Homo sapiens: one gene and its partner. The protein of the gene in region 1 interacts with the protein of each later gene in a biochemical or structural test. Each region holds a gene or a part of one and is shown on either strand. Other genes may lie near its edges.

Region 1 (7,025 bases):
CATGAACCTGGGAGGTGGAGCTTGCAGCGAGCTGAGATCTTGCCACTGCACTCCAGCCTGGGCGACAGTGCGAGACTCTGTCTCAAAAATAAATAAATAAATAAATAATAAATAAAATGTTTGGAATGTTGGCTTCATCCCTGGGATGCAAGGCTGGTTCAACATACGCAAATCAAGAAACATAATTCATCACATAAACAGAACTAAAGACAAAAACCACATGATTATCTCAATAGATACAGAAAAGGCCTTCAATAAAATTCAACGTTGCTTCATGTTAAAAACTCTCAATAAACTAGGTATTGATGGAAAATATCTCAAAATAATAACCATTTATGACAAACCCACAGCCATTATCATACTGAATGGGCAAAAGCTGGAAGCATTCCCCTTGAAAACTGGCACAAGACAGGGATGCCGTCTCACCACTCCTATTTAACATAGTATTGGAAGTTCTGGCCAAGAAAATCAGGCAAGAGAAACAAATAAGGGGTATTCAAATAGGAAAAGAGGAAGTAAAACTGTGTTTGCAGATGACATGATACTATATCTAGAAAACCCCATTATCTCCACCCAAAAGTTCCTTAAGCTGATAAGCAACTTCAGCAAAGTCTCAGGATACAAAATCAATGTGCAGAAATCACAAGCATTCTATACACCAACAATACACAAGCAGAGAGCCAAATCATGAATGAACTCCCATTCACAGTTGCTAGAAAGAGAATAAAATACCTAGGAATACAGCTAATAAGATGTGAAGGATCTCTTCAAGGAGAACTACAAACCACTGCTCAAGGAAATAAGAGAGGACACAAATGAAAAAACATTCCATTCTCGTGGATAGGAAGAATCAATATCATGAAAATGGCCATACTACCCAAAGTAATTTATAGGTTCATTGCTATTCCCATTAAACTACTATTGACATTCTTCACAGAATTAGAAAAAAACTACTTTAAAATTCAAATGGAACCAAAAAAGAGCCCGTATAACCAAGACAACAATAAGCAAAAAGAACAAAGCTGGAAGCATCACACTACCCAACTTCAAAGTATACTGCAAGGCTACAGTAGCCAAAATGGCATGGTACTGGTACAAAAACAGACACATAGACCAATGGAACAGAATAGAGACCAGAGAAAGAAGACCACACATCTACAGCCATCTGATCATCGACAAACCTGACAAAAACAAGCAATGGGGAAAAGATTCCCTATTTAATAAATGGTGCTGGGAAAACTGGCTAGCCATATGCAGAAAATTGAAACTGACCCCTTCCTTACACCTTATACAAAAATTAACTCAAGATTAAAGACTTAATGTAAAACCTAAAACTATAAAAACCCTAGAAGAAAATCTATTTAATACCATTCAAGACATAGGCACAAGCAAAGGTTTCATGACAAAAACATCAAAAGCAATTGCAACAAAAGCAAAAATTACAAATGGGATCTAATTAAACTAAAGAGCTCCTGCACAGCAAAAGAAACTATCATTAGAGTGAACAGGCAACCTACAGAATGGGAGAACATTTTTGCAATCTATCCATCTGACAAAGGTCTAATATCCAGAACCTACAAGGAACTTAAAACAAATTTACAAGGAAAAAAACAACCCCATCAAAAAGTGGACAAAGGACATGAACAGACACTTCTCAAAAGAAGACATTTATGTGGCCAACAAACATATAAAAAAAAGCTCAACCTTACTGATCATTAGAGAAATGCAAAGGAGAACCACAATGAGATACCATCTCATGCCGGTCAGAATGGTGATTATTAAAAAGTCAAAAAACAACAGATGCTGGCGAGGCTGTGGAGAAGTAGGAACACTTTTACATTGTTGGTGGGAATGTAAATTAGTTCAACCGTTGTGGAAGTGTGTGTGGCTATTCCTCAAAGATCTAGAACTAGAAATACTATTTGTCCCAGCAATCCCATTACTGGGTATATACCCAAAGGAATATAAACCATTTTATTATAAAGATACATGCACATTTTTGTTCATTGCAGCACTCTTCACAATAGCAAAGACACAATAGCAAATGCCCATCAAAGATAGACTGGATAAAGAAAATGTGGTACATATACACCATGGAATACTGTGCAGTGCAGCCATTACAGCTTTTGGTGATACAGTGAATCAGATTTTTCATTAATTCTTTTAATTGGTTATTACTGAACGTGAAAAAGTAATGTTTGTATTGAAATCTTGAGTCTGGCCATGTTTCTATTTTAAATTCATAAAGAATTCTAACAAGAGGAATTCCAAGAATGTCATAAATGGATGTTTCTCCATGGATGAAGGAACTGTTTTATTCACTTGCTGATAATTCAGCCTAATCCAGTTTGACATCATATAGATAAGTAGTTGAATTATGGATTTAAAATACATATCATTTTCTAACTCCAAAGGTAATACTTATTTAAATGGTTTTGAAAATATAGAAAGGCACAATTTCTTTTTAAATCTGTTATTCTCCACCACCACTCAATCTGTCTATCATCTATCTCTCCATTCATTCTTCCATTTGTTTATATCTGTTAATCTTTGTATGTGTTCATGTATAGCTTTTACATGATTGGAATCATAATGCATATTCCATTTTGAAGTCTGCTTTTTTTTACACAAAAATATGTTGTGAATATTTTCCTATATTATGAAATATCATTAGCTGAGCTTTTAGAATTGACTGCATGTTTTGGTACCATTTAGATATAGTTTAAGATACTTAGAAGTTATGTGGCTTTGCCACTATGGATGAATCTTATTTACTCAATATTAATTACTTACAAATAACCTCACCTAAACACTACTCAGCCATAAAAAGGAATGAATTAATGACATTCACAGCAACCTGGAGACTATTACTCTAAAGGAAGTAACTGAGGAATGGAAAACCAAACATTGTATGTTCTCACTCATAAGTGGGAGATAAGCTATGAGGATGCAAAGGCATAAGAAGGATACAATGGACTTTGGGGACTTAGGGGAAAGGGTGGGAGGGGGGTGAAGGATAAAAGAATACAAATTGGGTTCAGTGTATACTGCTCAGGTGATGGGTGCACCAGAATCTCACAAGTAACCACTTAATTACTTACGCATGTAACCAGATACCACCTGTTCCCCAAACACCTATGGAAATAATTTTGTTTTTTTTTTTAAAAAAGGAATGAGATCATGTCCTTTGCAGGGACATGGATGAAGCTGGAAGCCATTATCCTCAGCAAACTAACAGAGGAGCAGGAAACCAAACACCACATGTTCTCACTTGTAAGCGGAAGCTGAACAATGAGAACACACGGACACAGGGATGAGATCAACACACACTGGGGCCTGATGCAGGGGCCGTAGCGGGGAGAGCATCAGGATAACTAGCTAATGCATGTGGGGCTTAATACCTAGGTGATAGGTTGATAGGTGCAGCAAACCACCATGGGACACGTTTACCTATGTAACAAACCCGCACATCCTGCACTTGTATCCAGAACTTAAAATATTTTAAAAATCTTTAGAGAATACAAAAAAAAAAAAAAAGATTCTTCAATGCATACACAATAAAATTGCAGTTCAGTCAAACATTGGAAGTCTTTCTCTGACTGTCTAGTTGGTATCTTCATTTTCAGCTTCTTCAAGATCCCACTCCAAACACTGTTAGCTCAGCCAAATTGAACAGCTCATATCTCCTACCTCTGGATCTTTGGTTCTGGTGATTGTATATTTCTGGACCATCTGGAACCCCAGCATATCACCCTACCCCACATCTCCACATCCCCAAAATATAACCATACTTCAAGGGCAGTTCAAATACCATCTCCTTCTATCCTCCATGAAGTCAGTTATCTCTTCCATTGGAATTATCGCCCCCTCTCCTGAACAGTACTATTTCGTGTGAATCTCCTCCAAGCCTTCTTTTCATTTTATATCTCATGCTGTAATTCTTGGAAAGTATGCTGTAGCTCAAGTGCAGAATTCTCATCAGTTTTATCTTTATATCTCTCCTAAACACTTTACCTGATGAAGAGCCTGGCATACACATAAATATATATTGAATGAATCAGTGATGGATTGAAAAGAGAAATGATGGATCTCCTAAATTTTAACTTTTATAAAATATTTTGATACATTCATGACCTTACTTTAGCAAGCAATGAACGTGATGTAAACTATTGTTGATATAGTTTTTATATTGGAAGTGTAAGTAGTTTGTGGCATGGGATTGTGACATATCCTAGGTTTCCTCATCTTCTTTTTATTGAAATGTAATTCACAAGCCATAAAATTTGCCCCTTTAAAGTAAATGATGCAGTGGATTTTAGTATATTTACAGAGTTGTGCAATCATCACCACTATCTAATTCCAGAACATTTCCATCTACCTAGAAACTCCATACCAGTGAGCTGCCACTCTAATCCTCCTCTTCCCCCAGCCTCTAGAAACAATAATCCATTTTCTGTCTCTATGATTTGCCTGTTCTAGATATTTTATAAAAATAAACATGTGGCCTTTCGTGTCTGACTTCCTTCACTTAGCATGTTTCAAGGTTCATCTATGCTATAGAGTGTACCAGTGCTTCATTACATTTTATGGCTGAATAATACCCTATTGTGTGGATATACCGCATTTAGTTTATTCATCAGTTGATCGAAATTTAGACTGTTTCCACTTTTTTGCTATTATGGATGATGCTGCTATGAATATTCGTATATGAATTTTTATATGGATATATGTTTTCAGTTCTTCTGGGCATATACCTTAGAAGTGAGAGTGCTCATCATATAGTAACTCTATGTTTAGCCTTTTGAGGAACTGCCAAACTGCTTTTCAAAGTAGTAGCATCATTTTATATTCCCACCAGCAGTGTATGAGGTTTTTTTTATTTTTTTGTTTTTGAGACGGAGTCTCACTCTGTCGCCCAGGGTGGAGTGCAGTGGCGTTATCTTGATTCACTGTAACCTCTGCCTTCTGGGTTCAAGCCATTCTCCTGCCTCAGCCTCCCTAGTAGTTGGGAGTAGCTGGGTTTACAGGAGCTCGCCACCATGCCCAACTAATTTTTGTATTGTTTTTTGAGACGGAGTCTCGCTCTGTGGCCCAGGCTGGAGTGCAGTGGTGCAATCTCAGCTCACTGCAAGCTCCGCCTCCTGGGTTCATGCCATTCTCCTGCCTCAGCCTCCCAAGTATCTGGGACTACAGCCGCCCTCCACCACGCCCGGCTAATTTTTTGTATTTTTAGTAGAGACAGGGTTTCACCGTGTTAGCCAGGATGGTCTCTATCTCCTGACCTCGTGATCCGCCTGCCTTGGCCTCCCAAAGTGCTGGGATTACAGGCGTGAGCCACCGCGCCCAGCCAATTTTTGTATTTTTAGTAAAGACAGGGTTTCACCATGTTGGCCAGGCTGGTCTCGAACTCCTGGCCTCAGGTGATCTGACTGCCTTGGCTTCCCAAAGTGCTGGCATTACAGACATTAGCTACTGTGCCTGGCCTCAAGTCCTTTCTCATTTTAAAACTGCGTTATTTTATTTTATTTTTCTGAGATGGAATCTCACTCTGTCGCCCAGGTTGGAGTGCAGTGGTGCAATCTCGGCTCACTGCAACCTCCACCTCCTGAGTTCAAGCGACTCTCCTGCCTCGGCCTCCCTAGTAACTGGGATTACAGGCACCCACCATCACGCCTGGCTAATTTTTGTATTTTTAGTAGAGACAGGGTTTCGCCATGTTGGCCAGGCTGGTCTTGAACTCCTGAACTCAGGTGATCTGCCTGCCTCGGCCTCCCAAAATGCTAGGATTACAGGCGTGAGCCACCACACCCGGTGGGTTGTCTTTTTATTGTTGAGTTGTAAGCATTCTTTTTAATATTCTGGATACTAGTTTCTTATCAGGTACAATCTTTGTGAATATATTCTCCCATTCCATGGATTGTCTTCTCACTTTCTGGATACTATACAGTACAAGTTTTAAATTTTGATGAAGTTCACTTGATTTCTGTTTTTTATGTTATTGCTTATGCTTTTGGTGTCATACCTAAAAAACCATTGTCTAAATCAATTGCCTATGAGGTGTTACCCCTATGTTTTCTTCTAAAGTTTTATGATTTTAGCTCTTTGACCCATTTTGAGTTATTTTTGTGTATGCAGTGCGAGATAAGCATCCAGCCTCATTCTTTTGCACATAAATGTTCACTTGTCTTAGCATTACTTATTGAAAATACTATTTTTTCCCTATAGAATTATTTTATACTTATCACAAATCAACTAACTATAAGGGTTTATTTCTGGACTCAATTCTGTTGCTCTATCTTATGGTAGTACCACACTGTCTTGATTATTGTAACTTCGTAGTAAGTTTTGGAATCCAGAAATGTAGTCCTCTAACTTTGTTGTTGTTGTTGTTCTTCTTTTTTCTTTTGTAGAGATGAGGCCTTGCTATGTTGCCCAGGCTGGTCTCAAACTCCTGGCCTCAAACAATCCTCCCACCTCCACCTCCCAAAGTGCTGAGGGGTGAGCCACTGCAACTGGCCTGTTCTTTTTCAAAATTGTTAGGGCTGTATTGGGTTTACCTTTCCCTAAATTTTCATATAACTGTTAGGATTCACTTGCAAATTTATGTAAAAAGGGCCTCTGGAATTTTGATAGTGATTACACTGAATGAGAGGAGTTTGGCAGGACTGGTTTCCCAAGACCACAAGACCCTGTAAGACCCTGCTGATAAGACAGGATGTGGTAGAAAGGCCAACCCAAACCAGCCAAAACCATGATGGTGACAGAAGAGACCTCTGGTTACCTTTGCTGCCCATTCTATGGTAATTATAATACATTAGCACGCTAAAAGAAACTTCTACAGCACCATGATAGTTTACAACTGCCATAGCAACTTTCAGAAGTTACCCTGTATGGTCTAAAAGGTCCAGACCTCCCCACTTCTTTCCTGGAAAACTCATGAATAAGCCACCTCTTGTTTAGCGTATAGTCAAGAAGCAACCATAAATATAGCCAGTCAGCAGCCCATCAGGGCTACTCTTCCTATG
Region 2 (7,872 bases), on another chromosome or scaffold:
CTCATTACTGTTTTGAGACCTAGCCATATGACTACATACAGATCACTGGTTTTCCATCAGAGGTTTTGTCCCCCAGGGACATTTGGTCATGCTTGGAGACATTTTTGTTTGTCACAACTGGGGGATAGGAGTGCTACTGGAATCTAGTGGTAGAGGCCAGGGATGCTGGTAAACATCCTACAGTGCACAGGGCCACCACACACCAAAGAATTATCCAGCCTAAAATGTCAACAGTGCTATCATTGAAAAACCCTGACATAGGATTTATTTATTTATTTATTTATTTTTTTGAGACGGAGCCTCACCCTGTCGCCCAGGCTGGAGGGCAGTGGCGCGATCTCGGCTCACTGGAAGCTCCGCCTCCCAGGTTCCCGCCATTCTCCTGCCTCAGCCTCCCGAGTAGCTGGGACTACAGGCGCCGGCCACCATGCCTGGCTAATTTTTTGTATTTTTAGTGGAGACAGGGTTTCACCGGGTTAGCCAGGATGGTCTTGATCTCCTGACCTCGTGATCCGCCCGCCTCAGCCTCCCAAAGTGCTGGGATTACAGGCGGGAGCCACCGCACCCAGCCAATATTAATACTGTTACATGCATCTCTGAGTGCACATGTGCAAGGTTTTCTCTAGAGAGGCAGAATCATACAGGGTGTAAGAAGGCTCTAGAGGCTACCTGGGTTCAAGTCCCCATTCCACTATTTACTTACTGAATGACCTTTGGGGCAAATTGCTTAATCTCTCTTGATCTCCGTTGACTTGTCCTCAAAATGGGAATAATAATACTTCTCTATATAAATGAGTTAATACGCAAAATGCTTGGGACTGTGCCTGGCACATGGTAAGCATTCAAGAAATGTTAGCTTTTATTTACTGGTAGCAGTATTTTCATCATCATCATTATCATTACAGAACCTTGAAATGAAAGTACACCGTTTAAATTCTACTAAATATTTTTAAATTATTGTAATTTATACTCTCACCAGTAGGGTATAGGAGTACCTATTTCTCCATGTCCTTGGCTATATTTGATATTCCAGACTTAAACTTAAGATATAAACTGATATCTTCTTTTATTTTAATTGGCATTTTCTTTTTTCTTTTTCTTTCTTTCTTTCTTTTTTTTTTTTTTTTAAGGAAACGTCTTGCTCTGTTACCCAAGCTGGAGTGCAGTAGGGCGGCTAAAGTGCAGTGGCATGATCACGGCTCACTGCAGCCTCGATCTCGCAGGTTCATGCAATCCTCCTGCATCAGCCTTCCAAGAAGCTGGGACTATAGGTGTGTGCCACCATGCCCAGCTAACTTTTGTATTTTTTGTAGAGACAGGGTTTCACCATGTTGTCCAGGCTGCTCTTGAACTCCTATGCTCAAGAAATCTGCCTGCCTTGGCCTCACAAAGTGCTGGAATTACAGGCATGAGCCAATGAGTTGAGCGTGCATTTTCAAGATTACTGTTTTCAAGTATTTATTGGTTAATTGGTTTTATTGCTCTGCAAATGTCCATTTCATTCTCTGTCCATTTTTTGATTTACTATTTAATGTTGTAAAACATAATGTAAAAAGTACTAAAAAAGAAAAAAACTTAATGTATTTATACAATTAAAAATTCACAAAATGTAATATGTCATACAAAGAAAAGCCTCTCTTCCACCCCTGTTCCCTGGCTAGTCAGTCCCTCTCCTTAGAGACAACCATTGTTAGTTATTAAATTCTTATCCTTCCAGAAAGAACTTATTTGGATATTCAAGAAAATAAGTATTTTTTTTCTACCCAAATGGTAGCATAGTACATGCATTTTTCTGCATTATTTGTTTTTTCCTTTCTTCACATAACAACATATCTTGGCCATATTTTCCATATGTAAATAAGGAACTCCCTGATTCTTTTTTATTTCTATTCTGTTATAAAGCTGGGCTATAATTTATTTAAACATTTCCATACTGATGTACATTTAGATTGTTTTCTAATATTTTGCTAATGCAAACATTACCACAAAGTCCAAAATAAATTTATATGTGTGAGTATATCTGTAGACTAAATTCCCAGAGGTGGAATTTCTGGGATAAAGGGAATGAGCATTTGTAGTTTTGAAACATATCACATTATTTTCCTCCATAGACATTCTACCAATTCACATAGGCCCGGAAATGTGAATCCTGAGGCAGGGGAAGCTTCTGTAGCTGGAATCGTGATGCAGGGAGGCTTATGTAACATTGTGGGGCTGTCTAGTCTGACAACTGAGCTGCCTCTAGCCTTCACTGGCCTCTGATAAGGTGTCTCATCCCATTAGTCTTGGCAGGTCCCCTCCAGATCTGTGCACTCGCTGCTGCATGGCTCTGTGTCTGCTTTCTTGTGTGTGACAGCTGTCTCATGTGCATGAGGCTCTGCATCATTTCCTGTTCTATGGCTAATTTTTATAAACTCTATGCCTCAGAATTGGCTTGGAAGTCCTTTGGAACTAACACAATACCAACTATCTCAAGACCCTAGCCCTTGCAAATTGGAGGCATTTGGTTTCAGACTACTGAGCCTACTAAGAGTTTAAGATATCCATTCAAGGGCTGGGCACAGTGGCTCACGCCTGTAATCCCAGCACTTTGGGAGGCTGAGGCAGGTGGGTCATCTGAGGTCAGGAGTTCAAGACCAGCCTGGCCAACGTGGTGAAACCCCGTCTCTATTAAAAATACAAAAAATTAGCTGGATGTGGTGGCAGGTGCCTGTAATCCCAGCTACTTGGGAGGCTGAGGCAGGAGAATCACTTGAACCGGGGATTCAGAGGTTGTAGTGAACCGAGATCACGCCATTGCACTCCAGTCTGGGCAATAATAGTGAAACTCTGTCTCAAAAAAAAAAAAAAGAAAGAAGAAAGAAAAAAAATATATGTATATATATATCTCCATTCAGTCCAGTGGATGGATGACCCAGGATAACAATAATAATTCTGAGAGAGTAAAGCACCTTTGAAACACTGTAGATTCTCATTTTTTATGTCTAAATTTCCTTCCTCATGAAGCCATCAGTACCTGTTTGGTGACAGTTCTTTGAAACTCTCCAGTGGTGTTCATATGAGTATTTTCATTCTCTCTGCTGGGTTGCCCAGCTTCATTGAAATACCAATGTTCTTTTAAAATATTTGTTTATCATTTTTAAAGATTACTATTTGTTTTCATTAATGCTGAAACAAGAAAGAATAAAGAAGACTTAATGTGGAATAGGAAACCTGGAATTAAGTCTGAGATCTGTCATTTATTAGCTGGATGAGCTGGAACAATTAGTAGTGTCTCTAAACCAGGGGTTATCAATGTGTGAGCCTCCATCAGGAGCATCGACTTCTCCAGAGAATTTGCTTAAGATGTCAATCATCAGGCTCCACCAAGGACCTGTTGAAAGAGAAAGTCTCTACTGGAGTTCAGCAAATCTGAATTTTAACAAGTTTTCCAAGTGATTCTGAAGAATACTGAGTTCCTTTTTTGAGAAAGGATAAAGATAATTTCTTACAGGTGAGACTTAAATGAGGTAATATAAGCAAAATAAATCTATAAATCAGAGTCATAATGTCAAATGCCTTCAAGGGCCAAGGAGACGTGAGGTAGCAGAGCGGTGGGGAACATAGCCACCCTCTCTAAAGGCATCTACATTATCATTATTTTCTAAATCATCATGCCAGTCAAACAAAACCTGTCAAAAGTTAAATTCTGCTTCTAGGGGCCAGCAGTTTAGGAGTGTAAGTAAAACAATTTACAGATGTTAGACTGTTTTAATTTAACCCTAAAACAAACAAAAAGAAAGGTCTGGAGGTATAACATTTCTGAAAGTCTTTGGTTTACAGCAGTTGCTATAAGGGGAGCCACATAATTTATAGTCCAAACTGGACATTTCTGAAAGTGAAAGGAGGTGCTATTAATAATTACACCAGGACAAAGTGAAACCCAGGATGGTTCCAGGCAAAGCAGAGTGTATGATCACTCTGGCTATTATTATAATAATCATCCACAAGCCCTGTTTGACCTAAGATTAAGATCAGACAAAAATTAATGGTGTACTTCTTGCTGGGGACAGACGGCTGATAATGGAGAGTGAGGAGGTGAGGGTGGAAGCTATACCAAGAGAAGGGGTAGGGAGGAAGCACCCTTTTCCTTAAGACAAGAGGCAAGGAGGGAAGGTTAGGACATGAATGTACAGAAGGGAATGTATGTAACACTGGTTGATATATTCCTAGTCATAACAAAAGCCATAGAAGGCAAGTCAGGGATCAGAGAAGCACCAAGAAGGAAGAAGAAGAACATATAGACAGAATTGGCAAAGCAAAGAATGGGCACGGAGACACCAGCATACTGGAGACATACAGAGAAAAAATCAACAGAGGACAGACTACTACAGGTGTTGTGGGGAGACAGAAGATCACCAGGGGCAAGAGCAAAGTGCAAAAACAAAGAACAACTCTTTAGAAAGGAAGTTCCTTGCCTATCCTACTGAGCTAGGGAGTGGTTGGTTGACCCTGTGACTGGAAATTCCCCAAGGTAGGTGATGATAACCTCCACATTTTCACAAAATTCTGTGAGGAGCCAAAGCACCTGAGGTAGAGAATTGCCCTTCCCCTACTTTCCAGATGCTCTACCAAGGCTTGAACTTTGCATACAAGATGCCCAAAGCATTGCAGTGAACTGGCTGTGACCTTTCAGTAGGCATCACCACCCACCCCTCCACTCCCTACTCAGAGCTGATTGGGAAATCCCCCATAAGTGGTGTTTGGTGCCCCGGTCATTCTGATCTTAGTCAACCACCATACAAACATACCTTTAGTCCAAAGTTCAGGACAACTTATTTCACTTTATAAGCAGCCTATTACACATTCAAAGTATCCATTTGTTCTCAAGAGGTAGCAAGGTAGGACTGCCCATCTGTTTTCCTCTCTTTATAATATTTTCTAGATCCTAAATTTTACGCTTTTCTATCATTTCTTTATTTTTTTCTCCCTCTTCTTTTCCTCTCTCTCTGCTCTTCTAACTAATTGGCAGAATCTCTGACCTCCACTTTCTCTGACTCCCTTCTCCCTTCCTAGAAACAGTATCCACAGTGGACTCCGGGGCTCCTACAGACTTGGCACAGCTTCCTACAGTCTTGAAACAGCCCTGTTGTTCTGTCATGGCCAGTGGGCAGTTTGTGAACAAACTGCAAGAGGAAGTGATCTGCCCCATCTGCCTGGACATTCTGCAGAAACCTGTCACCATCGACTGTGGGCACAATTTCTGCCTCAAATGCATCACTCAGATTGGGGAAACATCATGTGGATTTTTCAAATGTCCCCTCTGCAAAACTTCCGTAAGGAAGAACGCAATCAGGTTCAACTCGCTGTTGCGGAATCTGGTGGAGAAAATCCAAGCTCTACAAGCCTCTGAGGTGCAGTCCAAAAGGAAAGAGGCTACATGCCCGAGGCACCAGGAGATGTTCCACTATTTCTGCGAGGATGATGGGAAGTTCCTCTGTTTTGTGTGTCGTGAATCCAAGGACCACAAATCCCATAATGTCAGCTTGATCGAAGAAGCTGCCCAGAATTATCAGGTAGGCATTTGAGGTTTCTTCCCTGTTCCCCCATCAGCCCAGGAGTTCAGTGAGGCCCTGGAAACTGCTACCTTCCCACTGAGGGTTTGCACCCCATTGCCCCCACCCCTTGGGCTTGAGTGGGCAGCTCGCAGTCAGGCACAGTGGGTTCAAAGAGCTGAGTCTGGGGAACTGCTGACTCTCTAAATCAAGGTGCAATGGAGAATGGAAAGGATGTGAAAATTTGACTCAGAAGGTTTGGGCTCAAGCCCAGTCTTGTGAGTTTACTGTACAACCTGCAAGGAATCACTTTACCTCTCTGAGCCTCAGGTACCTCACCTTTCAAATGGCAAAAACAAAACAACTCTCTTAAAGTTGTTGGTAGGACAGATGAAGGGAAGTTTGTAGTTCTTTGATAATTCCAAAGCACCATCCATAGTCCTAGTTAGTCATAAATAACTATGTTCTGGTCATTTAGGTCACTTAGGCTCCAGATTTCTCCCTTCTCAGCAACCCCTTTCCCCGCCAGCTTGAGAAAGGCGAGTCCTTAATAATTACACAAGGACTCACCTGGAGAGTGTCACCAGCTCTCCTAAGAGACCAGGAGGATTTTATGAGGCCAGAAATCTCCAGGCACAGCCTGTCCAAACGGCCCTCTTTCCGCAGGGGCAGATTCAAGAGCAGATCCAAGTCTTGCAGCAAAAGGAGAAGGAGACAGTACAAGTGAAGGCACAAGGTGTACACAGGGTCGATGTCTTCACGGTAAGAAAAACTCCATCCCACGATCTCTGGAAGCAGAAACATCTCTGCCAAAGCTCCTGGAATCCCCTATTACACTGACCCCTCAGAAAAAGATCCAGTGAGCCATGTCCTCTCCTCGGCGCCTCAGCACCTGACCGGCCAGGCGGCATCACCTCCCGCGTCGGCCTCGCTATTACAGCGGGCTGACTGCTCAGTCTCCACCGGCAGACAAGGTGGGGCACGGAAAACCCGCGCTGGTCTTAGAATCGCAAGTACAGGTTTTTAAGGCCGAGCTGCGCCCTCAACGGATTCCCCAATTAGAAAATGAAGACATTGGCCGGGCGCGGTGGCTCACGCCAGTAATCACAGCACTCTGGGAGGCTGAGGATCGCTTGAGCCCAGGAGTTTGAGACCAGCCTGGGCAACATAGCGAGACTCTCCTCTTAATTAAAAAAAAAAAGAAAGAAAACTAGCCGGGCGTGGTAGCACACGCCTGTAGTCCCAGCTACTAGAGAGGCTGGGAGGTGAAAGTATTGTTTGAGCCTGGGAGGATGAGGCTGCAGTGAGCCGTGATCGTGCACTGCACTCCAGCCTGAGTGACAGAGTGAGAGACTGTCTCAAAAAAAAAAAAAAAAAAAGACAGAAGGAAAATGAAGACATTGTGACCCCACTTACCTATTTTCCTGTGTGCGTGAAAGGAATAAAATCTATATGAAAGATTATAAACTGAAAAGCCTTCTGGAATTGTATTAGACAGTTCCTTGAAGGCAAGTGGTAAACCATAAATTAATAATTTCGCTTAAAGCTGAGCACGTAGTAGGTGCTTTTAGAAGTTTGTTCTCCTCTCCTTTCCTTTCTTCCAGGTCTGCCCTGGCACATTGCTCTGGTTGGGAATTCCACACAAACTTAATAAAATTAATGGCTGAATAAAGTGGGCTAGAAGGACCTTCGAGGCCATCCTCTCACCCTCTGCCTGTCCCTGTTTCTTAGGACCAGGTAGAACATGAGAAGCAAAGGATCCTCACAGAATTTGAACTCCTGCATCAAGTCCTAGAGGAGGAGAAGAATTTCCTGCTATCACGGATTTACTGGCTGGGTCATGAGGGAACGGAAGCGGGGAAACACTATGTTGCCTCCACTGAGCCACAGTTGAACGATCTCAAGAAGCTCGTTGATTCCCTGAAGACCAAGCAGAACATGCCACCCAGGCAGCTGCTGGAGGTGAGTCCCTTGGGGGCAGAATTGCAGAGAGGTAGCAGCCCATCCCTAGTCTCAGGTCAGAGCATGGACCACTGGCAGAATACCTGAGATTGCCCCAACCATCCTACCTCTAGCCCAGTGCTGTCCAATAGCAATATGTGAGCCGCATGTATTAGAATGAAAATGTGAGCCACATATGTAATTCATAAATATAATTCTGGCCACATGTGTGATTTAGAAATGTAGTTTCAGCCACATATGGAATTACAAATTTTTCTAGTTAGTCACATTAAAATGATAAAAGTGAAATTAATTTTAATAAAATATTTTAACTCAATATATCTGAAATATTATCCTTTCAGCCTGTAATGAATATTTTAAAAGTATTAATGAGATA

The links.
Region 2: the proteins of CFLAR (region 1) and TRIM31 form a complex in vitro, tested with the Homo sapiens proteins (one study listed by BioGRID).

Annotation. Positions count from the first base shown.
Region 1 is NC_000002.12:201,168,158-201,175,182, forward strand, and holds part of CFLAR (CASP8 and FADD-like apoptosis regulator), read left to right. Parts: 3' UTR 1-7,025. UniProt on the Homo sapiens protein: Apoptosis regulator protein which may function as a crucial link between cell survival and cell death pathways in mammalian cells. Acts as an inhibitor of TNFRSF6 mediated apoptosis.
Region 2 is NC_000006.12:30,110,072-30,117,943, reverse strand, and holds the start of TRIM31 (E3 ubiquitin-protein ligase TRIM31), read left to right. Parts: upstream 1-4,853; 5' UTR 4,854-4,880; intron 4,881-5,055; 5' UTR 5,056-5,138; coding exon 5,139-5,555; intron 5,556-6,104; exon of another isoform or gene 6,105-6,200; coding exon 6,201-6,296; intron 6,297-7,265; coding exon 7,266-7,496; intron 7,497-7,872.